Linked DNA regions of Homo sapiens. The protein of the gene in region 2 purifies or fractionates together with the protein of the main gene of each other region. This does not show direct contact. Each region holds a gene or a part of one and is shown on either strand. Other genes may lie near its edges.

Region 1 (3,650 bases), on a different chromosome or scaffold from region 2:
TTGCCATTTTTCTTTTTCACTCTCTTCCTTTCCACTCTCTTTTCCACGTGTTTCCTATCAACACCACACCAGTGTATTCTAACACAACAGTGTATTCTAGCACACTAGTGTATTCTAGCACTTTACAGCTTAAATCTTTCACGTTGTCATTTCATCTTATCCTTACAACCACTTTGATAAGGCAGATGGGTGCTACTCATTTTATGGATGAATCAGTTGGGAATTAGGAAGTTTAAAGTTTAAGAACTGAGTAAATGGGCTGGGCGCAGTGGCTCATGCCTGTAATCCCAGCACTTCAGGAGGCCAAGGCAGGTGGATCACCTGAGGTCAGGAGTTTGAGACCAGCTTGGCCAACATGGTGAAACCCCATCTCTACTAATAATACAAAAATTAGCTGGGCGTGGTGGCGCATGCCTGTAATCCCAGCTACTGAGGAGGCTGAGGGAGGAGAACTGCTTGAACCCAGTAGGTGGAGGTTGTAGTGAGCCGAGATTGCGTCACTGTACTCCAACCTGGGTGACAAGAGTGAAACTCTGTCTCAAAAAAAAAAAAAAGAACTGAGTAAACCAGCCAGGTGCAGGGGCTCATGCCTGTAATCCCAGCACTTTGGGAGGCGGAGGTGGGCAGATTGCTTGAGCCCAGGAGTTTGAGACCAGCCTAGGTAACATGGCAAGACCCCATTTCTGCAAAAAATACAAAAACTAGCTGGGTGCGGTGGCACGTGCCTCTAGTTCCAGCTACTTGGGAGGCTGTGGTAGAAGGATCACTTGAGCCCAGGAGGTGAAGGTTGCAGTTAGCCAAGATTGCACCACTGTACTCCAGCCTGGGGAACAGAGTGAGACTGTCTCAAATAATAATAATAATAACAACAATAATAATGATAATAATAAACCTTAGTTAACCCAAGACATCCAAAATATTATCATCTCAACATGTAGTTAATATAAAAAGTTGAGACATTTATGCTTCTTCTTTTTCTGAGTAGCTACAGTTCAAGTGCTCCACAGCTACCTGCGGCTAGGGTTACAATGCAGAGACTATGTGTTCCTCAAGTGAAGAAACTATCTCATTTACATTTTATCCTCATCACCTAACACTGACCAGAATTTAACAAATTCACATGGGCTTCAAAACAAATACTGAAAGAAACCTGAGTCCACCCGGCCCTCCACATTCAGGAACTTACAAGCACAGTGGACCCGTCTTCTTCCATCTTCTGGCACGTCTCCTTCTCTATGCCTAAGACAGAAAGTCATTTTTATAGTTATCCCAAGAAGTCGGTTCCTTTCCTCCCTAGTGAAAGGCTCTTGGAAACCCCAGTGCAGGCGAGAATGACTTATGAACACATGAAAAGCATTTTAAGATTTTATTTAAAAGGAGCGCTGGCATTTTGTTGAGTGCTGTTATAAGTCCATGACATTCAGAAGAGGAGCACATGGTTAGTCAGCCACAAACAGGTCGTCAGCCTTCAGGCTGAAAGAACAGCAAGGCTGCCCCCTTGTGTCCATTAAAAGTTTGGAAAAATGTGTCGTACTAACTGTGGCATTATTTCAGAAAGGGGACACTGTGTAACACTGAATGCTTTTTTTTAATCATCAAGTCGGAGTGAATTTAAATTCCAGCCCAGAAGGGTGGCCTTGATCTAATTAATGCAGCAGATAAGATAATAAGCTTTAAAATTCAAGGCAGCGAAACTAAACTCATTCTCCCCTCCACCCCTTCAAATGGGCTTCCTTGTCTCAGGTCTATCCTCTACTCTACTAGGGTAGAGGATGACATTTAAAATAACCAGAAGATGGCTGGGCACAGTGGCTCATGCCTGTAATCCCAGCACTTTGGGAGGCCAAGGTGGGTGGATCATCTGAGGTCAGGAGACCAGCCTAGCCAACATGGCGAAGCCTCATCTACTAAAAATACAAAAATTAGCTGGGCGTGGTGGCGCATGCCTATAATCTCAGCTACTTGGGAGGCTGAAGCAGGAGAATCGCTTGAACCCGGGAGCTGGAGGTTGCAGTGAGTTGAGATAGCGCCACCACACTCCAGCCTGGGCAACAAGAGCGAAACTCAGTCTCAAAAATAAGAAAAATAAAAAATAAAATAACCAGAAGATGCACTCATTAAAGTAAACATAAAAATACAGAAAAGCATACAAAAGTTTAAAGTTACAATCCTCCACATGGCAATCACTAACTACTATTGTTGTCAATAGCTAATTATTTAAAACACAAATGTGACCATCACTCCCTTATTCAAAAACCTTCAACCTCCCCCTCCCTACCTATAGGATCAAGCCCAGATTCCACGGTATGACCTTGTTTCCCACTTGGCCAGATACTTACAGAAAGCAACCAGGCCTTTTACCAACGTGGCAGCTTTCTTCCCATGGCTGTGTGAAAATCTCATTTCCTGGAGAACATCTAGTAAGTATCCATCAGGACCCAGCTTCAAGGGGACACTCACCAGGACACAGTCAGGATTCACCTAACAGGGCCTGTAGCCATTCCCACACCCAGGACCGCAGCCTCCACTTGCTTGTGATGCGGCTGATCAGTTACAATGTAACCACTTGTTTAAATATGTTCCCCTTGCTGTTTGCTAACTTTGAAGACAGCACTGTATGTACAGGGCCCCAGCTCTCTACATAAATTTTTATTGAAGGAATTTCCTCTAGTGAGGAAGAATATAATTCAATAAATGTTTACCATGTACTGTGTCAAAGGTGACTCAAAGATGAGTGGTAGTCTCTAACCTCAGTAAGTTTATAATATTACCTTCCTGTAATTAACACACTGCGCTAGGTACTGTGGAACAGGAAGGGGGAAAGGAAATGTGGGAGCAAAAGCATGCTGGAGAGACCTGAAGGGATGTGCAGATCTGTGTAAGAGGCAGCAAAGGAAGACACTTCAGATGGAAAAAAACCAAGGCAGGTGTTAAGAATACTCAGGATTAACCCCAAGAAACTGGGGGAATGGTGAACAATATCTTTGGGAAAGATGTCAGGGCAGAAGACAGTATTGGAAGAAATCAGGAACAATGCCTGGCATATTATTTTATAGATGAGAGACTGAGGCCTGGGATGAGAAGGAGGCCAGGGGGAATAAATTGCTCCAAGTCCTGACTTTCCATCTGCTTCCCTGGCTTAATGGCAGATCATGACTTTTAAAATTCTATACATAAAAGCCCATGAATAAAATTATGTTAAGAAGATCTGAGTTTTTAATAATGTTTAATGTAGTCAGGAACATGGTTCTAAACTTTTCATAAGTAAAGTTTAAGGCCAAGGATGTAACTGGGGTCCCAAGAAAGAGGGGCTTAGCTCTAGAATGATCTGATGAGTCCATCAATAAGAGGCTTCCACCCTGGTTAGCCCAGGTTCCTCATTGGCATGTTAAGAAAGATTTTACAGTGCACTGGTCAATCTCAACTTACCACATCTGTACCAGGAAAATTTACAGTAGCCTAGTATCATGAAAATAATCTCTTCATACTTTGGCATTGTGGCGAAAAGACCATGGAACCAGACTGCTTAGAGTCAAATGTAGTTCTACCATTTACTAATGATGAGGTTCAGAACACACTTCACCAAAATATGGTGCCTTCGCATTTGAGGACACAGCAGAAGCAGGGAGGTCTCTCGGCCCCTCTCCTGC
Region 2 (3,750 bases):
ACATGTGTACAACATCTGACATTTTGCATATCAAACTTAATAACTATGTTTTAAACATAAATTCCCAAACTATCTTTTAAAAAATACAAACAGTAACATGTTTGAAATGTAAAATGCCACTACAACTCAAGACTCAAAGAATATAAAAGCCCCTAAATCAGGAACGTATGGTTGCCATAACAACTTGGCTACATTTCCATGAATTTTATGGCAGAAAAATGCCTAACATGTCTGATTTACAACTGCAAAAGGAACCACGGTGTTCATTTCCTGAATATTGGTCATGGCAAACTTTTTGTTTTAGTTATTTGGATTTGATAGGTATGTTCTCTAATTGGCTGTTTCTTGTTACATGCCTTATGTAATTAAAGCAAAAATTAATCTTTAAATATTTTAAGTTTTCCTTACCCTTGCTTTGTTATCTAAACTTGAGGAGAATTGCCTATAACAAGCTTGAAAAGAAATCAAGGCTTGCCAACCAGGAAAAAAAAAAAGGATGTTTAAAAGTACAGGCTGCTGACATTTTACAAATAAAAATGATAAGGGACACTGAAGTGGTTCCACAAAAAGTACTGAAAGATACGTCGAAGTAGAACTGAATCAGGAGTTTCACTTCATCTCTGTATGCTAGTACTTCTGAGGTAAGAGATATAGCTTAAGGGGAACGTGATAGTTGTGGAAAAACTTATGTATATAGACATGCATGCATAGAAATCTAGAATTGTGGGATTAAAATGTAAAGCGTAAATTGTTTGGTTGGACAGTGTGCTCAGCGTGCCTGATTCTGCCTCCAGCTCACCTTCCTGCAGCTGCCTCAGGAATGCACCTGGAAATAGCCAGAAATAATTTTGTCTCGTCAAGCTTTCTGTTCCTGTGTATATACAGATTTGGCATTTTTGCAGTGACAGTTCATTGACAACGAATACCCACCACATTGCTCAGTAATCTAATAATAATCAGATATGTCCTGTGTACTTAAAAGCAACCAGCTTCGTGAAAGTTAAAACATCCTAGCTTTCTTAGACATTAACAGTCAAATTTGCTTTGACTTTTCAAAAGTCAAAACTACTTTTCGTAGTTGAATGGAGTGAAGAAGGAGAGGCAAAAGATTTGTGTAAGATTTCCTGCGCAGTGTTTCTCTCTCTCTCTCTCTCTCTCTTAAAACCTGATTATTAGCATATGGCCTCTTCTAAAGGAAAAGATAGAAACAAAAGTTAGGGGTAATTTGAATCCCCCTAACCAGTGGTCAATTAGTGTGTCAACTAAGCTGTTGTTTTACATCTCTTAAGTTACAAAAATGTCCCCAGTCTGTCACAGAAATACACAATTATCTAAATTTTGAATGGGACAACAAGGAATTATTTTAGAAAAATGTGATTCTCCAACATTTTTAGTTTATCCCTCTTTTACATTGAGCATCATCAAAACTTTTGACTATCTCACTAGACATATTTTAGAAATCCAATGTAAACAAATTTTTTCTCCTGGAAGCTTCCTTTTTTCCCTTGTGATTCCCTATATTTATTTGTGGATGGTAACTAATAATATATATTAGTTACGTTTATACACTTTACCAAAATTGCATATGCCCTGAAATAAATTGACAAAACAACCGGAACTTGAGCTATCTAAAACAATACTTTTTAAAATGGTCATTTTGCATGATTTTGACAAAACAATAGTTTAATTCCTGGAAATGTTTTCTTTGTGGATGTTTGATAAAACTTCAGTCTGTGCTTGCACTATTAAACCACTGTTTTAGTTAGGTTAACTTTAAAATCACTACCTAGGGAAGAATGCCAACCTGCACATGCAGCAGATTACTCCCAAATTGTTTCACAACATATATACGGTTCAGGTTAGTTACCAATAAAACAATTCTACAGGAATGTGAGCTAATGCTACCAGAAAAGAAAAAAAAAAACTGTACAAGTAAAACACACTTACTGTTCCGATCCAGTCCAGTGTTACTGAAATGCCTGCCTCCATTTCTGGCTTGATTCAACGTGCTGTTGCTGCTGGGGTGTGCTGGAACAGGTTTAACCACATGTGAATAAAGGATTTCTGTGGCATCATTTTTAAAAGCCAAACAGCTTTTCATTAGGATGCATGCAAGGGGAAGGAGATAGAAATGAATGGCAGGAGGAAGCATGGTGAGTAGAGGATTTGCTTGACTGAAGAGCTGGTTAATTCTTTTGCTTCTGCTTCTGCACTGTAACTGTGAAATTCCTCCTCAAGCTTCCCTTTATATATCCATAGAGGTTTGGCGTTCATTCAGGTGTAAAGTTGTGTAGAGCTTCAGAGTGAAAACACAGAGAAGGGGTGGGATCCCTACATGACCCTGCAAAAGAATTTTACCAATGGAAAAGAAGACTGCAGAAAAGGAGGAGCTTGGTATACAAATTGCCTGAAATTTCAGAGTTGGACTTCATCACTTGTCTGTGAGCCGACGCAGGCAGGCGTATTCTATATCAACGACAGACTCTCCTCTGCCATTTCCTTTCCTGAATCTAGTTAACATTCGGGTTTAATTTAAACGAAAATACATCGCTGTTCATTTGAAGAGACTGGCTTTCCCACAGTTGTTCTGTACTTTCCTCAGATTTTAGAGTATTTGGGTCAGAAAGGGAGTTCTTCCCAGATAACAGGAGGAATTCATGTGAGTTTAAATATTGCAGGACTTGCATGAAGCACCTAGTTAGCTAAACATTGCTTTCTCTCAAGAAGCAAACCAATATTTTTTTTTCCTTAAAGTAAAAGGCACAGAGCTAAAACCTGCCCCCTGGACATGCTTAAATAATGCAGCTTTGATCTACAAGAACTACTGTGCTGCTAGGTAAATTATTGCCAGGGGTTTTGTGTGGAGAATAATGAGCATAGTTCTGTCTACATTAAAGTAAGTAATACTCATTTTTGTCTTAAAAATGTGTCACAAGCATTAATATCCATAGCATTGTTTTACATAAAGCCATTTGTGACAGACTTTTTAGCGGATTCAAAATAATTTTTTCTAGATTTTTTCAGAACACAGATTCTACTCGTATTTACTAAATATTTTGCTCATTACTTCCTTTGACTCTGCTGCCCAAGTAAGAAACCTATTTTTCTGAATTACTTTACCGGCACCCAGAACACGTGTTCCATTAATTAATTATAGGCCACTGATGATCCCTTTAAAACAATCATAAAATTCTATTTCATCATGGGACATCTCAATTGGAATAACTATTCTGAATCATCTTTTCAATTATAAATCCATTTTTGTCCTTTGTGTGGTTACCTAAATCACCTAATTTTGTATCTCTTTTCTGTATAAGCTTTTGTCCCTTGTAACTGCCATTTGCCTATATGTCTGCCTACCTGAATTTCTCCATAGCAGCGCTACTGGCATTTTGGAAGAGACAGTTCTTTATTATTGGGGGACCATCCTGTGTGTTTATCAGCATCCCTGGCTTCTAACGACTAGACGCCAGTAGCACCCCCCTAGTTGGTAACAAAAATAACTCCAAACATTGCCAAATGACCCCTACAGGGTAAAATCACCCCCAATTTAACCACTAATTATCTATTCATCTATCTCACTATAAAAGAAAGTAAAAATAAGTATAAAGGAAAAATATTATAATACCAAGAAATTATTGTTCTTTTTTAGGACAGAAATGGTACCGTAGTTTTGTTTTAAAACAATGACTGCTTCTCTATTAGAAGTATATACTGGAATATCCTTAGATGAAATGATTTTATATCATC
Region 3 (3,750 bases), on a different chromosome or scaffold from region 2:
AACCAACTGTGGGCGTGTGGACGTTTGCATGTTACAAACCGACATCACCCTTGTCCTCCCTTCTTGGCTCATTCCCTGGCTCCAAAGTGTCCTTTCCTCCATCGGACAGTGGAATCTCGAAAAAGTGAAATCCACACTGTGCCAGGCCCAAGGGGGTCTCGCCTTTCCACCTACCTCCCCAGCGTTGTTACACTAGGACACCTGCTTTAAATCCGGTTGAACTATGGTTTCACAGTCCCCGCCCCAGAGCCCGAGATTTGTCAGAGAACGCAGACGCCTTTTTTTTCCCTCAGCCTCAGAAACATCAGGTGAGCTCATTACCTCACCCAGAAATGTAACTTTAATAAAGAGATCTGGAGAGGGCACTCCTCCCGCCCACACACACAGCAACGGCAGCAGCAGCAGCAGCTCGCAAACACTTGTAATCTCTTCCTCAGGCTCTGGCCCCCAAACCCCTCTCCCCGCCAGTTCCTGGGAGAGATTCAGAGGCTTTCAAACCTCTTCTGTGACCTGAGCTTGCCGACAGCTGAAGGGATGTGCACGGATAAAAGGAAGTGAGATTTTTCTTTGATAAAAGCTAAAGAAAAAGCTAAGAACAAACAGGCCAAAATACCAGGAAGTAGGAGTTTAACTGGCAACTGTCTACGCAGGGATAGAAAAAAAAAACTTCAAAGAAAAAAAAATCCCCTAAATTTTCAGTTTAGGGGAGCAAAGGAACCTGCTGCTCTGTCAGGCAACTGTGAGCGCACGGAATACCCTGTTAGAACAACTTGTGTCAGCCGCCAGGCGGGCCTGAGGATACCAGGGCCAGGGGACGTCCCCGAGGGTGTGGAAAGGGATTTCCCGAGAGATATTTTAGTTGTTGGGAATTTTGCCTTTTCTCTCTCTCTCTCTCTCTCTCTCTCTCTCTCTCTCTCTCTTCCAAGACTCAGTACAGAACTGAGAACTGAGGCTCTATGAGCAGGTCCTGGAAATTCACAAACCTCTCACTGAGGTGTCTCCCAGGCCTACCTACTAATTCCTGTTCTGGCTGTGTTATCTGCCTGCGGTCACCCTTTCACTCACCACCCGCCCAGACAATGGACGGGGACCGCAGGGGGTAACGTTGAAACCACGATTTTAAGCTTTAGCAGGTTTCGCAAGGGGGGCGGGGGGAGGTGATTAAAGTCCTCTCCTTCTCTACCCCTCCCATCCCTTCCTCGGCTCACCAAGGGGAAGTTACTAGGGGATTTATCACGAAAAAGTGCCGGCAGTTATTTCATCCGAGAACTAAGCGAAAGAAAAACTGCTCGGGGCGCAGTGACGTGGACTTGGATACCCAGAGACAGGAGGAACTGTCAGAGGGCAAGAGTCCGCCGCCTAGCTGGGAGCCGCAGGGACAAGGGGAGAGCGTCAGGCGAATCCTGCCCACCCCGGAGCACCAAGTTCCTGGAGATTCACCCAGTTTCCCCAGCTTGATGCCCAAACTTGAGCTAACCAGCCAAGCCCAAACGTGCGGCACAGGTGACCGAGCCCGGGGACAGCTCTGTGCCAGGACAGCGGTCCCCTTACCTCCACCACGCGCCTGGGCGCACTGCCTCGGGGGTGCGAGGCTGGGACGGGGACCTAGGAAACTGCTCCAGGCCCACGTCTGTCTGGGGCTGCTCCCAGGCCCTTGCTCACCTGGCCTGAAGACGGTGGCGGAGATCAAGAGGCAGAAGAGCAGACGGCAGGAACTGGCCCCCTTGGATTCCATATTCCTCCTCCTTCTTGGTGGGCCACTGACGGAGTCCACGCCGCAGGAGGGGGCGTCGTCCCGGGCCCCGCGGTGCCCGCGCGCTGGCGGGTCCCGACGCAGGGGCAGCGTCTTCTCCCAGACACACCGTCCCCTGGGCTGTGGCGCTGCACCTTCGGTTCTCTGCCGCACGCAACTTTCCACCACGCAATGCCCCCAACTCCTCCTCCCTCCCGGTCAACACCAGCCCACGGGCCCTTCGGCTGCTCCTCCGGGGACAACGACCCTCTGTTTCCAGGAGACACTTGAGTAATTCGGAAAGGTGTAAGCGGTTCTTTTCGCTGGTATCTTCTTTTATTTTCCTTGTATTGGAATGATAATAATAATGGCAGTGGCAATGTGCATGAAACGCCAGGTGCTAAGAAGGACTCGCAGGAGGCGGCGACGGGGGGGCGGCGGGTCTCCTCAGGTGGCAGCGGTGGTAGCAGCGGCAGCGGCGGCAGCGGTCTCCGGGCTGCTCTGAGTAGAGGGACTGGAAGGCGTGTGTAAGCTGCCTCTTTCCTCCTCTCCCCGCCTCCTCCCTCCCTCCCGTCTCCTCCCCACTTCCCCGGACGCAGCGCAAAGCAGGTGGTTGAAGCGCGGATCCGCAGCCTAGAGGCGCTGCAGGACTGAGTCCGAGCCCTGAGCCCAGCTCCGGGATCAGGGAGAACCGCGTGCCCCGGTCCTGGAGCCCGGATGAGCGGTGCTTCACCGCGGCTCCGCCCCCAGGGCCAGGTCCGCCAATAAGAAGCAAGCACAGGAGCCGCGCGCGCCAGGGAGAGCCCTGGGACTAACACTTTCTGTGATGTTGCAGCGCCCCAGTGATAAGGCCTCTGGCTTCCAACTGCCCACCCACCCTCGCTGAGGTTTAAAAATCGACTGCCCTCTCCCTCCACCCATACGCCCATCCCACTGACTCATTCCTCAGAGATTTTTCTCCGCCGTGCTGCTGCAGCCTTCTGTCCTGTAAAGAGAATAGTGGGGCAGGGCGGTGGCGGTGGGGAGCGAACCTTGGGTCCAAGAGCGGGAGTGAAGGGAAAAGGAAAGGAAAGGGCAGGAGGAAGTGGCAAAGGTGGAAACTTGCTTCTTGGGAGTTAACAGGAATAGCTACTTGTTGGCAGGGGCAACCCCTGTACTGGACTGATTCCTCCTGTACTTTTCGAATCTCTCTCCTCCCCCTGCTCACCCCCACCACTCCCCTCACACCCGGCTGGCATAGACTTGGTTTTAAAGGAAGACTACGTGAGTCGACTGCCCGGTACCAACAGAAGATATTTGCTTTTCCCGGGGGAAATTAAATCCGGAATTTCTAAACCGTACTTCGTCATACGGATTTTCCCAATGTCTACAAAAGCCCTCTAGAGAGCGTGTCACTTTTTTACTTTGAGTTAAGCGGTGATTTTAAGTTATAGACAGAAAATCCTCAAATTATTTCAGATTAAAAGCCAAGTCCGTCTTGGTCCGTTCCCGAAAGCCAGGCACTCCAGCAGATGGACAGGCTTCTTAGGCAATTTCTAAAGATTGAACCACCTCCCAGGAGGAACATCGGGAAGCTGTGTTGCTTTCAAATCAGGCAGAGAGCATGAAGGAAGATTTTCCTCTAGAACACCGGGGTGGAGCTGTCGGAGCCCTAAGTGGCTCTAAATCAGGGATGCAGGATCACAACTCTCATCACCAAAGAATAATAAAATCTTGGTCCCTGAAGCACTTCGCTGGGGCATTAAATAGCCTTTCGTGCATCACAGGGTCACCCTTTTGTGAGACTGGTCTCCAGCAGAGGATGCCAACTAGTAATCGTTACATACTGCACTTTCATCAGAAAACTGCGAGTTACCAGCGAGATTGGAGACTCGCAACACACAGACACACACACACACACACACACTCACACACTGATTTTTAAAATTGTTTATCTTTTAGTGCTCTAAACTATTAAGCCCTATCTTCAGCTGTGATTTTTCTCAAAAGCCTGCTTGTCCTGTTCTTCCAGTTCTCCT

What was found.
Region 1: the proteins of SOSTDC1 (region 2) and TACC1 purify together in Homo sapiens (affinity purification with mass spectrometry, with the first as the bait; one study listed by BioGRID). This does not show direct contact.
Region 3: the proteins of SOSTDC1 (region 2) and ALCAM purify together in Homo sapiens (affinity purification with western blotting; one study listed by BioGRID). This does not show direct contact.

Annotation. Positions count from the first base shown.
Region 1 is NC_000008.11:38,828,714-38,832,363, reverse strand, and holds part of TACC1 (transforming acidic coiled-coil-containing protein 1), read right to left. Parts: intron 1,240-3,650; coding exon 1,187-1,239; intron 1-1,186. UniProt on the Homo sapiens protein: Involved in transcription regulation induced by nuclear receptors, including in T3 thyroid hormone and all-trans retinoic acid pathways. Might promote the nuclear localization of the receptors.
Region 2 is NC_000007.14:16,463,517-16,467,266, forward strand, and holds the start of SOSTDC1 (sclerostin domain-containing protein 1 precursor), read right to left. Parts: upstream 2,223-3,750; 5' UTR 2,153-2,222; coding exon 1,948-2,152; intron 1-1,947. UniProt on the Homo sapiens protein: May be involved in the onset of endometrial receptivity for implantation/sensitization for the decidual cell reaction Enhances Wnt signaling and inhibits TGF-beta signaling. Directly antagonizes activity of BMP2, BMP4, BMP6 and BMP7 in a dose-dependent manner.
Region 3 is NC_000003.12:105,365,394-105,369,143, reverse strand, and holds the start of ALCAM (CD166 antigen isoform 1 precursor), read right to left. Parts: upstream 2,236-3,750; 5' UTR 1,736-2,235; coding exon 1,663-1,735; intron 1-1,662. UniProt on the Homo sapiens protein: Cell adhesion molecule that mediates both heterotypic cell-cell contacts via its interaction with CD6, as well as homotypic cell-cell contacts. Promotes T-cell activation and proliferation via its interactions with CD6.